4 linked regions of the Homo sapiens genome follow. The protein of the gene in region 1 interacts with the protein of each later gene in a pairwise test. Each region holds a gene or a part of one and is shown in the gene's direction. Other genes may lie near its edges.

Region 1 (4,034 bases):
TTTTGAGACAGAGTCTTGCTCTGTCACCCAGGCTGGAGTGCAGTGGCACAATCTTGGCTCACTGCAACCTCCACCTCCTGGGTTTAAGTGATTCTTTTGCCTCAGCCTCCCAAGTAGCTGGAATTACAGGCATGCGCCACCATACCCGGCCTATTTATTTATTTATTTATTTATTTATTTATTTTTGAGATTAAGTCTCGCTCTATACCCCAGGCTGGAGTGCAGTGGCATGATCTCAGCTCACCGCAATCTCTGCCTCCTGGGTTCAAGCGATTCTCCTGCCTCAGCCTCCCGAGTAGCTGGGATTACAGGCACGCCGTCACTGCACCCGGCTAATTTTTTTGTATTTTTAGTAGATACGGGGTTTCACCATGTTGGCCAGGCTGGTCTTGAACTCCCAACCTCCAGTAATCCGCCTGCCACAGCCTCCCGAAGTGCTCGGATTATAGGCGTGAGCCACCGCTCCCGGCTAGATCTGTTCTCTTTCTGTCATCACTCTCTTCCCTCCGTCGGCCACCCTGGATGGGCCCTGTGTCCCACATTCTCTTTTTTTTTTTTGAGACGGAGTCTTGCTCTGTCACCCAGACTGGAGTGCAGTGGCCTGGGTTCACGCCATTCTCCTGCCTCAGCCTCCCAAGTAGCTGGGACTACAGGCACCCGCCACCACGCCTGGCTAATTTTTTTGTCTTTTTAGTAGAGATGGGGTTTCACCATGTTAGCCAGGATGGTCTCGATCTCTTGACCTCATGATCCGCCCGCCTCGGCCTCCCAAAGTGCGGGATTACAGGCGTGAGCCACCGTGCCCGGCCGTGTCCCACATTCTCACACGCATGAATGGATTGGAGCTGTGGTTGGCACAGTGAAGCCCCTCTGCACCCCAACACACACAATCTCCAGTGTGAGCCCTGACCCCCTCGGCTAAGGTTCACACCTGCTGTGCCCAGCACCTGACATCTGAGTGCTCAGAGGTGCCAAGTGCTGTGCTGAGGGCTTTGAAGGTGATTTCTCCTCAGTCCTGGACAATCCCAGGAGGGCCAGGTGTTATTACATCCATTGTACACACCAGGAAGTGGGCTCCTCTGAGGTGCAGGGCCCCGCCCAAGGCCATACAGTTAGTGGGGTAGAGCTTTGATGTCCACTATAGGGGTGTCCACCTTCAAGGCTTTGAAGTAGAGCCCTTCAGTGCCTCAGTGGGAGACCCGCTGCCGGGTGCTCTCCTGCCCTCCTCCTGGGGTGGGAGAGGATGAGGGAAGGGTAGAAAGGATGTGTTGTGTTGACAGAGCCTGGGACACCCAGCCCACTCCTCTGGCCAGGCATCCCACAGGAAGTGGGAGGTATCGGAGCTGTAGCACCACCTGGGGCTCATGTGGGGCTGGTGGGTGTGCTGGGCCCTGGTACAGGAGCTAGGAGCACCTGGGTTCTGGGCCTGGGTGTGTGGGGGCTGGGCCTTCCTCTTCTGAGGCCTTGGTGCCACCAGAGGAGCTGCTCCTTCATGTTCAGCGGCTGCTCCCTAGCAACCCAGCGCAGCTTTGCATAAGCAATGAGGCCTCGCCAGCTCTGGGCAGGAGGGGTTCCCTGGGGAGGGTGGAGCTGACTTGGGGGCTGCTGCCACTGCTATAACTGGGCTCTTCCCCCCTGTCCTTCATGCCTGCCTGTCTCTTCCTCCTGGGTTCAAATGGCCCATTGGTGGAGGATGAGGAAGGAGAGAGGGGAGGGGAGTGCCAAAGCCTGTGACCTGAAATGCCCCCAGCTCACCTGGGATGATTCCATGTTCTCCCCACAGCCATGGGCCTAGGACAGTCCCAGCAGCTCCTGAGTGCCCCTTCCTAGGGCCTGAGCCCCTTTTTCAGAAGTCCTGGTATCTGATGTATGTCCTCCTGTCTCCATCCCCAGTTCTGGCATAAAGCATGCTTCCATTGCGAGACCTGCAAGATGACACTGAACATGAAGAACTACAAGGGCTACGAGAAGAAGCCCTACTGCAACGCGTGAGTCCTGTTCTGGGCAGGGGGCTGGGTGGGCACCTTGGCTCCCTCCCCGAGTGAGTTCTTCCTTTCCTTCCAATAACCGCAAGGTGACATTGGCGAACACTTCCATCCCCTACTTGAACATCACAGTTTGTCCTCACAACAGCTGAATGAAGCAAGCACTTTTTATCCCCATTTAAAGTGCTTTTATCCCCCATTTAAAGTGCATTTAAAGTACAGATGAGGAAACTGGGGCTTAGGGAAGGGAAGAGACTCTCAAGGTGGGATGGCTAGGGCAAGACAGGCTCTAACCCAATTTCGGGCAGTAAGGCGAGCACGTTTCTTTCCACTGTCCCCTGCTACAAAAGAGGGGGCTTTCCTCGTGGTCTTTCAAGAATGAGTGACGTGTCTGTTGTATTTGGGGTTGAGGACTTTGTTCTGTTTACCTTCCCTTATTTCTCTCCTCAAAATCGACAGTTTCCTTCTCTCACCTGGGTACTTCTAGGCTTTGGGGGCTCCTTCCTCCAGTGGTTCCTTCAAGAAAACTCTCTGGAAGCCTCATGCCAGCCCTTTTGGTGTTCATTTTTTGAGAATGGGCAGGGGTGCATAAAGGGTGTTGCCTGGGCCAGATAGATCTCTTCCCTGCCTGGTGAGGGAGGCTGTGGAGACTGTTTCTTTTGAGTATAGTCATCTTGAGTATAGTGCAGCTCTGTTCCTTCTGCACTGGGACCTGCAGCAGCTGACGGTAGGGAGGGAGTATAGAGGTGGGGTCCCCCATCCCAGAGCCTGGAGGAATACCTCCCCTCCCATCCCATCCCATCCCATCCCATGCAATCCCAGAAAGTACAGCAATTTTCCATCTTCCAATTGACCTTGTGAGTAGCAAGTACAAACTCAGTGTTGGGGCCTCACAGCCGCCTCCACCTGCGAGGTGGAGGCTTTGGAAGGTCAAGTCACTTATAAGTAATGATGTAATGATAATTTCTTTTTCTTTTAATTTGCTTTTTTTTTTTTTTTTGAGTCAGAGGACTCATCACCCAGGTTGGAGTGCAGTGGCGCGATCTTGGCTCACTGCAACCTCCGCCTCTTGGATTCAAGCGATTCTTGTACCTAAGCCTCCTGAGTAGCTGGGATTACAGATGCATGCTACCATGCCCAGCTAATTTTTGTATTTTTTAGTAGAGACCGGGGTTTCACCGTGTTGGCCAGGCTGGTCTCGAACTCCTGACCTCAAGTGATGCACCGCCTCAGCCTCCCAAAGTGCTGGGATTACAGGTATAAGCCACCTCGCCCAGCCTTAATTCGATTTTTTTTTTAATTTTAACTTTTTTTTTTTTAACTTCAACCAACTCAAGTAATGGTAATTTCAGTGTTCACATGAATTTAGGATCTGACTTGAGTCCAGTTTTTTTTTTTTTTCTCTTAATTCTCAGTCAGGAGGCTCTTTGCAGCTGAAGTTCACCCAGGGAAAAAAAAATTTGGGACTTGTCTAAAAAGGGGGCTTAAACCTCCAGCCTTACCCCTAACCTTACCCCAAACCTTCCTTGCTTCCTTACCCCCTCCCGTTCCCTGGCTAAGACCACTCTTTCATCTTTTTAGGGGCTCGCTCATTCAGCAGACATTTATTGCCTGCCTGCTGCTATAATACATACTAACCTGCACCAGGTGCTGGGAAAACAGATTCCTGATAAAAATCTCAAGCCCAAGAAGCAACATGAAGTTGTCCCTTCTGGAAGAAGGAGGGCACTGGGCAGGTTATCTGGGTAAAGGAAGGGTTGCAGCTCTGTCCTGGCCCCTCCTTCAGCTGCCCCTTCTCTTCTATTAATTTCTACTGTTCCTCTTCCCCCTACCAACCCCTCCCACCCCCACAAGGGAAATGGGACATTCTTCGAATTCTTAAGGGCTCACACAAGCCCTGGTTCTCTGCCACTTCCTCCCTCCATTGGGTAGTGGGGTGGGGTTCAGAGAAGCCAGGGCAGTTAACCCCTCCGTTGCTGGACCACCTCAGGCTAGATTCTGAGCCTCCGCCCCAGCACGCAGAAGTCTGACCGAGCCTTGGAGCCCAGT
Region 2 (4,034 bases), on another chromosome or scaffold:
CCTCACCCACATAGTACCAGTCCTTGAATGGTTTCTCCTAATACTGCCTATTAGCTTTTCAAAATTATTTTTAAATTATTTTTTAGCTCACGCCTGTAATCCCAGCACTTTGGGAGGCCGAGGTTGGTGGATCACCTGAGGTCAGGAGTTTGAAACCAGCCTGAATAATATGATGAAATCCTGTCTCTACTAAAAATAAAAAAATTAGTCGGGTGTGGTGACCAGCACCTGTAATCCGCTACTCTGGAGGCTGAAGCAGGAGAATTGCTTGAACCCAGGAGGTGAAGACTGCAGTGAGTCAGGATTGTGCGAGTCAGGATTGCGCCACTGCACTCCACCCTGGGCAACAAGAGCAAAGCTCTGTCTCAAAAAAAAAAAAACAAAACATATATATATATATATACACACACACATATATATACGTATATATACATGTGTATATACGTATATACGTATATACACACACACACACATATATAAAGCAAATTGTGACCGTTGTGTAGTGAGAGAATGATTTTTTTTTTATTCCTTTCAGTCTTTTTCATGTGTCATTTGTGTATGAGAACTGTTGAAGCTTAGAGATGAATGACTTAGAAATTTTGTCTTGGATCTCAAAGGGTAGTAACATCTCAGAGGGTCAGTTCTACCCAGTGTTTGGACCTCAGTTTTCCAGAACCAGGCTCTCGATTTTTTTTTTTAAAGAAGCTTTATTAAGTTATGTTTTATATACCATAAAATTCACTCCATTCAATTAGATTTTTTTGGTTACATTTTGAACATTTCTGTCATCCCCCAAAGATCCCTGTGCCCATCCAGGCCTGCCTTTTGCATAACTCTAAGCGTGCACAGTCCCATTCCTGTTTGCAGTGTTCTCTCCTGGACCAGCTTTGAAGAATGCCATCCGGGACTTTGAGTACCCCTGCTCCACACTGTCAAAATCCTTTCAGAGAACTCTGCTCCCAGAAAACAAAAGCCAAGGAAACAGATTTGTTTTAGGCCCAGTGATAGAACTCTTCTCAAAGGAAAGGTGACATTTAGGTCTAGTTTATTCTCAGAACAGGGAAAAAAAAAAATCCTAGCAAGGAGCACAGCATGCATCAGTAGCTCAATGATTTATTCTGCCTCAGTAGGATGGGGTGGACTTACTGGGCAACCACTGACTTCATTTAATGGTAACCTGCAGGTGAGTGCATCAGATCTCTTCCTTGATCAAAGCTTTTAGCTTGTCTCATTGCCAACCAGATTTCTAAGAAACTTGTTACACAAATCAGAAAGGCAGGCTGTTACATCATTTGCTTACAGTTTGGAAGATTATTCTTTTAATAAATAGTTGAATGCCTGCTATGTGCCATGTACTCTTCTAGGTGTTAGTGACATTGTGCTGAACAGGACATGGAGCTTATACATGTTCTCCTGAGTGTATGCTCAAGTCACCTCATTGATTTGGCTGCTCTATTTAATCTTTATAGGGAGTTCTCTGTTTTTCTTCCTAATATTCCAAGATAACTTTTTTCTTGAATTTATGAAGTCCTGTTCATATATAACCCTACCTTATGATCATAGCATTTAAATAATTTTCTCCTCCCCCAAGTAGTAGTGTTTCTGGTTGCTACTTTTTAATGGCTGCATAGTTCAAGCAAGTGTACCGTAATTTTACTTAGCAAGTATTTGTTAAACATTTAGGTTGCTTCTAGTTACCTTTTAAATTGTCGCTATTATTGTGCTGTGGTGACCATATTCATGCATATGGCTTTTCTCGTATTTTGGTATATAACCTGATAATTTGTCAGTTTAAATATTAGAGATTCAAACATGTTTTTTAAATTATTAATCTACCTAATTACTTCCAAGAGATTAACAGTTGCTATCATGGAAGTGGTGAGAATATTTGGAGTTTTGGATTTGACTTTATTTTACAGATAACCAGACTTGTAGCTAGAGGTGACACTAAGCACCTGACTCCTCATCTAATGTTTTGTTTTCGTCTTTTATATTAGGCTGTGATTTTAGTGCTTTTGACCGACCAGTTGGTATGCTGAAGAATGCTTTGTGGGCCTTCGTGAACACCTTATTTTGTAGAAGTACGTTATGTCATACTGGCTTAGAAGTCATGTACCTGTATCCTCTCTCTCACTTTTACTGGAGAAAAAAAAAAAAGGAAATGAACGAAGAAGGATGCTGTTGTCAGAAGCAATTTTAAATGTTTTGGGACAGTGTCTTGTCCTAAGTGCTAATTTTAGTGCGATAATTACTAATAATACCTGCAAGTCTCCAAGAAAAGTTAAATTGTTGGTTATGTTACCAAAACACAGAATGGCCAGATTAAACAAAGGATGTCCTAAAATAGTAGTGTTGATGCTTAAAAGGTTAAACTGTTTTCTGTAAACTTTAGTTTTGTGAAATAGGGTTTTCTTAGTTATGCTTAATGAATTAGTCATATGATTATATGGAAATAGACATTAAACATGATAAGTTTTGGGAGTTGCAGACTTAATGTGGTCTCAGGATGTTTCCTTGGCAGGACTTTTTAAATACAGGTTGCATTCTGGGAGAAAGCCAGAGTTAGCAAATCTGTAATGCTGAAAAGTTGCCAGCCTAGAGAAAAATTATATCAGTTTTCAGGAAACAAGTTTATTTTTAAGTACTAAAAATGGTTTTAAATAGGCCTGGTGGAATAGTTGATACTTACTAATCAAACTAGATTATAAAAAAGAATGTTACTTTAAAGTAGAAGGTGGTTTTGTGGGTTGAGTATGAACCTTAGAATTCGATAGACTTGAGTTCAGATTATGGTTTTGATATTTCTGAGGTATGTGACTTTAAGCAAGTCTGTTAAACCTGATGTTCAGTGTATAAAGATGGGAGAGCCCAGTTCAGTTTCTGGCATGAAGCTAGCTGTTACCAGATTGAGGCTTTAAAACCTGCTATACTGCTTAAATAAAAATGTGTTAATTTTTATATCTTTTGTAATCAAATCAGTGTAGCCAAAATTCTGGAGAAGAAACTTTTTCACTGTGGTACAATAATTTTTATTCAAGTTATATACATACACATTGTGTTTTCTGTAACAAATTACTACAAATTTATTTGTTTAAAACACAAATATTTCCTTACAATTTCCATGAATCAGGAGTCCTGGTATGGGGTTAGCTGCTGGGCCCCCAGGGTCTTACCTTGCAGGAGCTGTGATTTCTTTCTTTTCTTTTTTTTTTTGAGACAGTCTTGCTCTGTCGCCAGGCTGGAGTGCAGTGGCACGATCTTGGCTCACTGCAACCTCCACCTCCCGGATTCAAGTGATTCTCCTGCCTCAGCCTCCCAAGTAGCTGGGACTACAGGTGTGCGCCACCACGCCCAGCTAATTTTTGTATTTTTAGTAGAGATGGGGTTTCATCATGTTGGCCAGGTTGGTCTCTATCTCTTGACCTTGTGATCTGCCCGCCTCGGCCTCCCAAAGTGCTGGGATTACAGGCGTGAGCCACTGTACCCGGCCCAGAGCTGTGATTTCATCCGTGTCTCCTTCCAAGTTCACTGGTAGAATGTGGTTCTTGTGATTATAGGACTGAGGTCCCCCATTTCTTGCTGGTCGTCAACTGGTGACTGCTTTCAGCTCCTAGAAGCTGCCCTCAAGCCCCTGCCACATGGTACCTTTCGCATGCCTTCTCACAACATCTTAGTCTGAAGAATTGGCAAGAGAATCTCTTGGGAAGGACTCAGTTCTGCTTTCTCTGATTAAGTCATGCCCAGGCTCACCCAGGATAATCTGTCTTTAGCTTGAATTCACCTTACTTGGAATCTTCATTACATCTGAACGTCTTTCCTCCTTTGTCATATGATTTAACCTAATAATGGGAATGAAATACATCACATTCACAGCCCTGCCTGCGCACATGGGGAAGGGGGTTGTACAGGAGATGGACACCAGAGGTAATCTTGGGCAACCTATGTATGGGACTGCCTGCCCCACACACACACACACACACACACACACACACACACACACACACACAATGTGTGTGTGTGATTTTATTTTACCT
Region 3 (4,034 bases), on another chromosome or scaffold:
GGTGTCCCAGGTGCCCTGTGGACACTCCAAAGGTGCTAATCCAGGTCAGTTGTGTGGCTGACTGTAGGCAACCTCCCTGCAGGAAGTGACTTTGGGCGAGTGACTCAGCCTTGTTTTCCCATCAGAAAAATCAGTTTCCACCCGCAAGAGACTCCGGTCATTTTCATGTGTGTGACGTTCTGGGTGTATAGGAGGCATACTGAGTGGTGGTGGTTATTGTTTTTATCTTTATTTTTTAAAAGGGAAAGAATGAAAGCAGCGAGTTTTCTCCATGTCGTTACCTTTTGAACCTACGAAGCTCCCTGAGCATAGGGAGCATGAGCTTGTCTGTGATTCGGCAAGGCCTTGGTCACTGCGGCGCAGACGCAGGCCTCACACCGGCCAGGCCTGTTACACGCTTTGCACGCTTTACACTTCCCACCGTACCTTCAGGAGGTGGGCCTTGCTCTTATCATGCCCATTTTGCAGATTTTGAAACTGAGGCACGGAGAGGCAGCGTCACTTGCTCATTGACCACATGCCTGGGTCAGGGCTGCTCCCTGACACGTGTGGGGAGCCCCTGAGCAGCAGAGGGGAAAGCTGGGAGGCCTGAGAGACCAGACCCTCGGAATCCATTGCTCAGTGGCCTGAGGGTTGCAAGTGCCCAGGGGGGTTGCAAGCAGCCCGGGGCGTGAAAGCTCACTGTGGGCCTGACCGCTGTGGCCGAGCAATGCGCCGTCACTCAGGAGGTGATGTGTAGCCACAACAGCCCCGCAAAGTGCCTGGAAACAGACCTCTGGGCCCGGCTCCTGGAGGCCGTGTCGGCTGGGGGCTCTGCACATCTCGGTCACACGGGGTCCAGGCCATTGAGGCTCTGCCTGGCCACGCGTGCCTATAGTCATGGCAGCCAGGGAAGACGCAGAGGCAGGTCGAGAGCTGGCTCTCCACATTCCTACCTGGCAGGCACGTATGTCCCAAAGCCAGTCTCAGGACTGTGCCATTCCCAAGGGGCAGAAGGGCAGCCCTGCCTCGGGTCTGGAAGGAGGAAAGTGAGAAATGGGAAGCAGTAGTGTCAGGGGCAGGGTGCCAGCCCCGGACCATGAAGGGAACAGTGGGGTAGAGATGGGCTCGGGGGCACGCGCTGCCAGGAGGGGCGGGCAGGAGTGTGGCGGGGGCGGGGCAGCCCACGGGGTGTGGGGATCGGGCTACAGAGATGTCTACAGGGCAGCTCCCGCTCTCTGCTGGGGGGTGTACGTGGGACTGTGGGCTGCCACCCCTGCCACCACCACACCTGCCCAGTGGCCAGGTGTCATACTGGACTCTCGGGCTGGTGACTGGTGGGGCTCCTGAGACCAGAATTGTCAGCTTTATGCCCAGTTCAGAAACGTGGAAAAATGCAAGCGTGTTGCCTGGTGTGTGGAAAGGTTCCATGGACAGTCCGCGACAGTCATATCACTGTGTGGCTAAGAGAGGGGAATCACACAGGCCTGGGCTCGGGCCGGGAGCATGTGGGCAAATGCACCTGCCCTCCCCCCAACCCAGCAGAGCCTGGCTCAGGTGCCTGGAAGACCCCAATGAGGCAGAGGCTGTGGTCACTGCCGCTGTGGCTGATGCCGGCCTCAGGAAGCCCCCCAGTGCAACGCCATGACCCTTGCGTTCACCACGAGGAAGTGGTTCCAGGAGGCTGCATGGCTGCCAGGTGTGAGCCAGGATTCCAGGCCAGGTCTTCAGGGCTCCAGGGCCATGCACCTGAGCTGCCCCACCTGCCTCCAGGCTCAGGAATGTGTCCTCAGTGCGTGCTGCCCATCAGAGGAAGCAGTGTGGCCTCCCAACCTCCAAGGTCCAGCCTACCCCCATAGGCTGTGCCCACCTGGTCCCTTGGAGCTCGGAGAACCAGCGCCTGCCCAGTCCCATCCTGTGTCCAGCCTCCGGCCTCAGACATGGCTGGCTCCCAGTGGTCAGGACTGGCTGTGCCACTGATCCACTGTGCTCCTGGCTGCGTCGCTGTCCTTGCCTGCTGTGTCCTGGGAGCTGTACTGGAGCCCCGGCCAGACATATGCAAAGGGGTAGGGGGGTGGACACCCGCGGGGGCAGGGGAGAGCAGCCTCACGAGACCTCACTTCTGCCCTTCCCCCAGGACCCCACAGCCGCCCAGCATGGCCCAGCGGCACTCAGACAGCTCCTTGGAGGAGAAGCTCCTGGGACACCGCTTCCACTCGGAGCTCCGGCTCGATGCCGGGGGGAACCCAGCCTCCGGGCTCCCAATGGTCCGTGGCTCCCCGCGTGTTAGAGACGATGCCGCCTTCCAGCCCCAGGTCCCGGCACCCCCACAGCCTCGGCCCCCGGGGCACGAGGAGCCATGGCCCATCGTCCTGAGCACAGAGAGCCCGGCGGCCCTCAAGCTGGGCACCCAACAGCTGATCCCTAAGAGCCTGGCTGTGGCCAGCAAGGCAAAGACCCCAGCCCGCCACCAGAGCTTCGGGGCGGCTGTACTTAGCAGGGAGGCCGCCCGGCGGGACCCTAAGCTCCTCCCAGCCCCCAGCTTCTCCCTGGATGACATGGACGTGGACAAGGACCCCGGGGGCATGCTGAGGCGGAACCTGCGGAACCAATCCTACCGGGCGGCCATGAAGGGCCTGGGGAAGCCAGGTGGCCAGGGAGATGCCATCCAGCTAAGCCCTAAGCTCCAGGCTCTGGCTGAGGAACCCAGCCAGCCTCATACTCGGAGCCCGGCCAAAAACAAGGTAGGGGCCTGCTCGTGTGGACCGTGGGGAGGGGGCTGCTAGGCAGAGGGGCGGCCTGGCCGTCTCCACCACCGTCATCTTCTGCATCATGGCAGCTGCCGTTAGTAAGCACCTGCTGCATGAGGGCTCTCGACTGGTTTATTCCAGTTCAGCCCAGTCTGTGAGTGTGAAGATCCCACCTTACAGATGAGGCAGCAGAGGCTCGGAAAGGTCGAGGGTTCTACCGAGGCCCCCAGACTCTGGTGTCCCCGCTCCCAGCCTTGGTGGAGGGCAGATCCCTGGAAGGGCCCAGTCCCTGTTTCCGAGCTCTGGACAGGAGCCGGCCTGCCTGGATGATAGGGTTCAGGGTGACCTGGCTGCAGTGACTGGCCTGGGCTCCATCTGCCCCGGCAGCTCCAGACAGGGACTCAGGCGGGAGGGACTGAAGCGGGGCAGCTGTGCGGTGGCCTGGGGCTTAGGAGAAGTCTGCACATTCCCTCTGTACACAGAGCCCTGCTTCCCTGCCTGCTGGTGGTGGCTCTAGGTCTGGGGCATGGTGGCGGCAGACCCTTTGCTGGGCAGGGTGTAGCCTGACTGCATGTGTCACTAGGGCCCAGGGGACAGAGCGTCCAGCTGGGGCTCCTGGGCCCAGTGTCCCTCATCCTCGGAGTCACCATCCCCTGCGGCTGGGGGCCAGGCCTTCATTTCAGGCAGCCCTGGAGCTGGAAGCCACGTTCAGGGAGAGTTGCGTGGTACCTGGACACCCACCCAGCCAGGACTGCGACTCTGGCCACCCTGCTTGGTCTCTTTAGCTGGTGGGTCTGGGCTCAGGCAGGGCTGGGGTAGGGGAGGCGAGCTGCCCTGGAACCGCCCATCAGGAGGCCCTGGCAGCCCGAGCACCCTCAAGAATGCAGAGCAGATGCAGGGCTGGCCCCAGGGGCGTCCTTCTTGTTGGGCGCCTTGCTCAGACGTGTTGGAAAACAGGCCCCAAGCATATGGGCTGCCTCAGTGAAGGACGAGGGCGGGGGCAGGTGCTGTGTGACCCAGATGAGTTCCTGAACCTTCCTGAGCCTTGGCTTCCCCATGTGGAAGCAAAGATCACAGCCGCCCTCTGGGCATCCTCTGGGCAGTGTCCACGGAAGGTGTGTGCCAGAGCGTCTTCTTCACTGGTTGCCGTCCCAGCTGCCTCCTCAGGCCCAGCTCCTGCCCAGACTGGGAGTGGCAGTGCCAGCCTCAGGAGACGCCAAGACCACCTGTCAGAATGTCCCATGGGCGTCCACTGCAGGCCGATGGTGGCTGAGGTGGGGTCCCCCATGTCCCCAGCACCAGCCA
Region 4 (4,034 bases), on another chromosome or scaffold:
GGTTGCAGTGAGCCGAGATCTCACCACTGCACTCCAGCGTAGGCAACAGAGCAAGACTCTGTCTTAGAAAAAAAAAAGAACATCAGAATGTGAAAAAACCTGAAATGAATTTAGAAGTTTAAAACAGTTTCTTACAACAAAAAATAATAGCTTTTAAGTCAAAATATGTAATGTAGGAAATGTCGGAATTCAGTGAAAATGAGTGACCTTTACATAGGCTTAGCTGTTCACTGGTAGCAGCAAAAATAGGCCCTTGAGTCCAAGCTAGACTTGAATTCTGATTCTTCCAGACTTTGTGCAGTGAAGTCAGATGAGGGTAACAGGACCTAGCGTGTGATACCCTTAGCACTCTTACTACTCTTGCTAAGTAATTATGTGATTAGAGTTTGGAATGAAACTTCCAGAAATGTTATAATTGAGGCTTGGCGCGGTGGCTTATGCCTGTAATCCCAGCACTTCGGGAGGCTGAGGTGGGTGGATCATGAGGTCAGGAGTTCGAGACCAGCCTGGTCACCATGGTGAAACCTTGTCTCTACTAAAAATACAAAAATTAGCTGGGCGTGGTGGTAGATGCCTGTAATCCCAGCTACTCGGAAGGCTGAGGCAGGAGAATCGCTTGAAACGGAGGTTGCAGTGAGCCGAGGTCGCGCCACTGCACTCTAGCCTGGGCAACAAGAGTGAAACTCTGTCCCCCTCCAAAAAATAAATAAAAATAAAATATATAATTGTTACCTATCAAAATTCTGAGGGAAAGCCAGGCGTGGTGGCTCACACCTATAATCCCAGCACTTTGGGAGGCCGAGGCGGGTGGATCAACTGAAATCAGGAGTTCAAGACCAGCCTGGCTAACGTGATGAAACCCCGTCTCTACTAAAAATAGAAAAATTAGCCAGGTGTGGTGACACACACCTGTAATCCCAGCTCTTCGGAAGGCTGAGGCAGGAGAATCGCTTGAACCTGGGAGGCAGAGGTTGCAGTGAGCCAAGATCATGCCATTGCACTCCAGCCTGGGCGATGAAAGTGAAACTCTGTCTCAAAAGACGACAACGATAAAAAAAACAAAGTTCTGCGGGAAGAAGACAACTAGAGACATGCTGTTGGCCACACATAGTGCTCTTGGGGCTGCTTAAGTCTGTGGAGTTCTGGGGAAGAAGGTAAGAGCGATGGCTTTGCAGGAGCTCTAGTGATTGTCGCTACTTCAGTTGATGACATGAGATTGTTCTTTATTTTTCTTCAGCTGGTTTTCCCATGGGCTATGCAGCAGCAGCTCCTGCCTATTCTCCTAACATGTATCCTGGAGCGAATCCTACCTTCCAAACAGGTATGTGCTGGGTGGTAAAATGCTTTGTACGTACAGCTGGGAGAGAAAGGTGAAGGGGTGGATTTTGAGAGGGGTGGGTATAGAATTAGGACTTGGTTGAGTCGATTTCTCAAGTTCATTAAGTTAGCCTGTTGATAAGTGCAACAAAAGCTTAATTCTTACTGCACTGAAGCTTTATATACTGTGTTTCTCATGTCCTCCCACAAGGCAAATCTGTAATCACTAGGTTGTTAACTCTGCCAGAGCATCTGTTCATGAAATAGTATCACCTACTAGAAATTGAAGAATTTCTTGCCATGCCAACAGGTGGAATTTCCATGTTAATGTTTTTAGAGATAATTTTTGGTTAGACTACTTTAGCACTCTGATAATATTTTTTAAAAAAGTATTATTTTCCATGTAATGTATAGATGAATATTTTTAGATTTTGGAAATCACTGTTAATATTAAAAGTGGAATTGGTTTGGGTCTGAATCTTGAGGAGATTGGTTATTTAGTGGGATTTCCTGCTAGGAGCCTGCACTCTCTGGTGTTGGTTCCTTTTGGACTTTTTTCACCCACACGGGGCTTTGCCTTTCTGCCGCAGCAGTGGTGGTGCACACTCTGATCTGAGGCTGTGGTTTGGCCTTAATCCTGGGACTGCTGGGGCAACTTTATCCCTCAACAGTAGCTTCACACAGTTAACTTTGACAGAGGAGGAGACAACAGCAGTGTCCTTTCCCCAGATTCTTCCTGTTTTGTTAATCATAAAATTCTGCCTTTATATTCTGTCCTTACATCCATCTCTTCGTTTCCATTTCCACTTCCACTATGACCCTATATGACCACCCTTGTTCAGACCGTAGTTCACACCCTGAGAAAAACGTTCTTGACTTGGTCTTCCTGCTCCCAAGCTTTCTTTCCCCGGGTTAGTGTTCTTCCCATTTAAACCAGAGCGATGCTCCCAGATGAATTTTTCTCAGTGGTTTCCCATGACTGTGAGACACAGTTATGCCTAGAGTCTCGACTTTCAGTCCCTAGCTGTTTGCCATATTGGCCCATTTTTTCCCTTTAGAGTGGTTTTCCTTTTGTGTTTTGCCTTGAAAGAACCATCCATCTCGTAGTGTATATTAGCAGTTCATTCCTTTTTATTGTTAGGTAGTATTTTGTTGTATGGAAATAAATACTTCAGTTTGCTTATCCATTTACCATGTGATGAACATTTGGGTTATTTGCAATTTTGGGCTATTACAAATGAAAATGCTATTAATATTTATATGCAGGTTATTGTGTGAACATACACTTTGATTTCTCTTGAGTAAATAAATACAGAGGATTTGAGTGGCTGGTTATTATGGCAAGTGTATATTTAACTTTGTGAGAAACTGCCAAACTGTCTTCCAAAGTGGTGGTACCATTTTACATTCCTACCAGCAGTGTTTGTGAGTTGTCGTTCCTCCACATCCTTAACAACACTTGGTGTGGTCAGTCTTTTTAATTCTAGCCATTCTAGTGAATGTGTAGCAGTATCTTTTCATGTGCGTATTTGCCTTCTGTATGTCTTTGGTGAAGAATTTGCTTTTACTGTATGTCAGTTATTGTTTTCTTATCGTTGAGTTTTTGAGAGTTCTTATCAGATATATGCGTGTTTTCTCCCAGTCTGTGGCTTTTTCATTCTTTTAACAACGTCTTTTAAAGAGCAGGGGTTTTAAAAGTTTAGGCTGGGCGCGGTGGCTCACGTCTGTAATCCCAGCAATTTGGGAGGCTGAGGCGGGTGGATCATGAGGTCAGGAGTTCGAGACCAGCCTGGCCAACGTGGTGAAACCCCGTCTCTACTAAAAATACAAAAATTAGCTGGGCTTGGAGGCGCACTCCGGTAATCCCGGCTACTAGGGAGGCTGAGGCAGGAGAATCACTTGAACCCAGGAGACAGAGGTTGCAGTGAGCCGAGATCGTGCCATAGCATTCCAGCCTGGGCGACAGGGTGAGACTCCGTCTCAACCAAAAAAAAAAAAGTTTGATGAGGGTTAGTCGTTTTATGGATCATGCTTTTGGTACCATACTTAATAAACCTGTGTAACTTGGCTGGGCGCAGTGGCTCACGCCTGTCGTCCCAGCACTTTGGGAGGCCGGGGTGGGTGGATCATGAGGTCAGGAGATCGAGACCATCCTGGCTAACGCGGTGAAACCCCCTCTCTACTAAAAATACAAAAAATTAGCTGGTCATGGTGGCGGGCTCCTGTAGTCCCAGCTACTCCAGAGGCTGAGGCAGGAGAATGGCCAGAACCTGGAAGGCGGAGCTTGCAGTGAGCCGAGATTGCGCCACTGCACTCCAGCCTGAGCGACAGAGCAGGACTCCGTCCCCAAAAAAAAAAACAAAAGAGAAAGAAACCTGTGTAACCTAACTTCACAAAGATTTTCTTCTTTTTTCTTGTAGAAGTTTTACACTTGTAGGTTTTACATTTATGTCTGTGACCCATTTGCAGTTAATTTTTGTGTATGATGGTAGGAATGGATTGAAGTTTATATCTTTGGCATACGTATCAATGTGGCATGTGATGATCATGCCGTAGACCACCATAACGTAAGTTACTCTTCTAGGATTTTCAGAGGTAGCCCACTTTTACTCATTTCTTCATGGAGCACAAATCAGTGTGAAAATGTACTTAAAACTTTCAACTTTTTTATTTTACAAGAAGAACCTTGAGTTAATTTCAGGCTGAGAGCTGTTCTT

The links. The genes of interacting proteins can lie anywhere in the genome.
Region 2: the proteins of LASP1 (region 1) and RNF38 interact in binary tests that used the Homo sapiens proteins (3 or more experiments, as listed by UniProt).
Region 3: the proteins of LASP1 (region 1) and ARHGEF16 interact in binary tests that used the Homo sapiens proteins (3 or more experiments, as listed by UniProt).
Region 4: the proteins of LASP1 (region 1) and FAM168B interact in binary tests that used the Homo sapiens proteins (3 or more experiments, as listed by UniProt).

The regions. Positions count from the first base shown.
Region 1 is NC_000017.11:38,876,193-38,880,226, forward strand, and holds part of LASP1 (LIM and SH3 domain protein 1), read left to right. Parts: intron 1-1,893; coding exon 1,894-1,988; intron 1,989-4,034. UniProt on the Homo sapiens protein: Plays an important role in the regulation of dynamic actin-based, cytoskeletal activities.
Region 2 is NC_000009.12:36,393,451-36,397,484, reverse strand, and holds part of RNF38 (E3 ubiquitin-protein ligase RNF38), read left to right. Parts: intron 1-1,997; exon of another isoform or gene 1,998-2,081; intron 2,082-3,870; exon of another isoform or gene 3,871-3,924; intron 3,925-4,034. UniProt on the Homo sapiens protein: Acts as an E3 ubiquitin-protein ligase able to ubiquitinate p53/TP53 which promotes its relocalization to discrete foci associated with PML nuclear bodies. Exhibits preference for UBE2D2 as a E2 enzyme.
Region 3 is NC_000001.11:3,460,950-3,464,983, forward strand, and holds part of ARHGEF16 (rho guanine nucleotide exchange factor 16), read left to right. Parts: intron 1-2,116; coding exon of another isoform or gene 2,117-2,135; coding exon 2,136-2,723; intron 2,724-4,034. UniProt on the Homo sapiens protein: Guanyl-nucleotide exchange factor of the RHOG GTPase stimulating the exchange of RHOG-associated GDP for GTP. May play a role in chemotactic cell migration by mediating the activation of RAC1 by EPHA2.
Region 4 is NC_000002.12:131,069,142-131,073,175, reverse strand, and holds part of FAM168B (myelin-associated neurite-outgrowth inhibitor), read left to right. Parts: exon of another isoform or gene 1-1,154; intron 1,155-1,237; coding exon 1,238-1,321; intron 1,322-4,034. UniProt on the Homo sapiens protein: Inhibitor of neuronal axonal outgrowth. Acts as a negative regulator of CDC42 and STAT3 and a positive regulator of STMN2. Positive regulator of CDC27.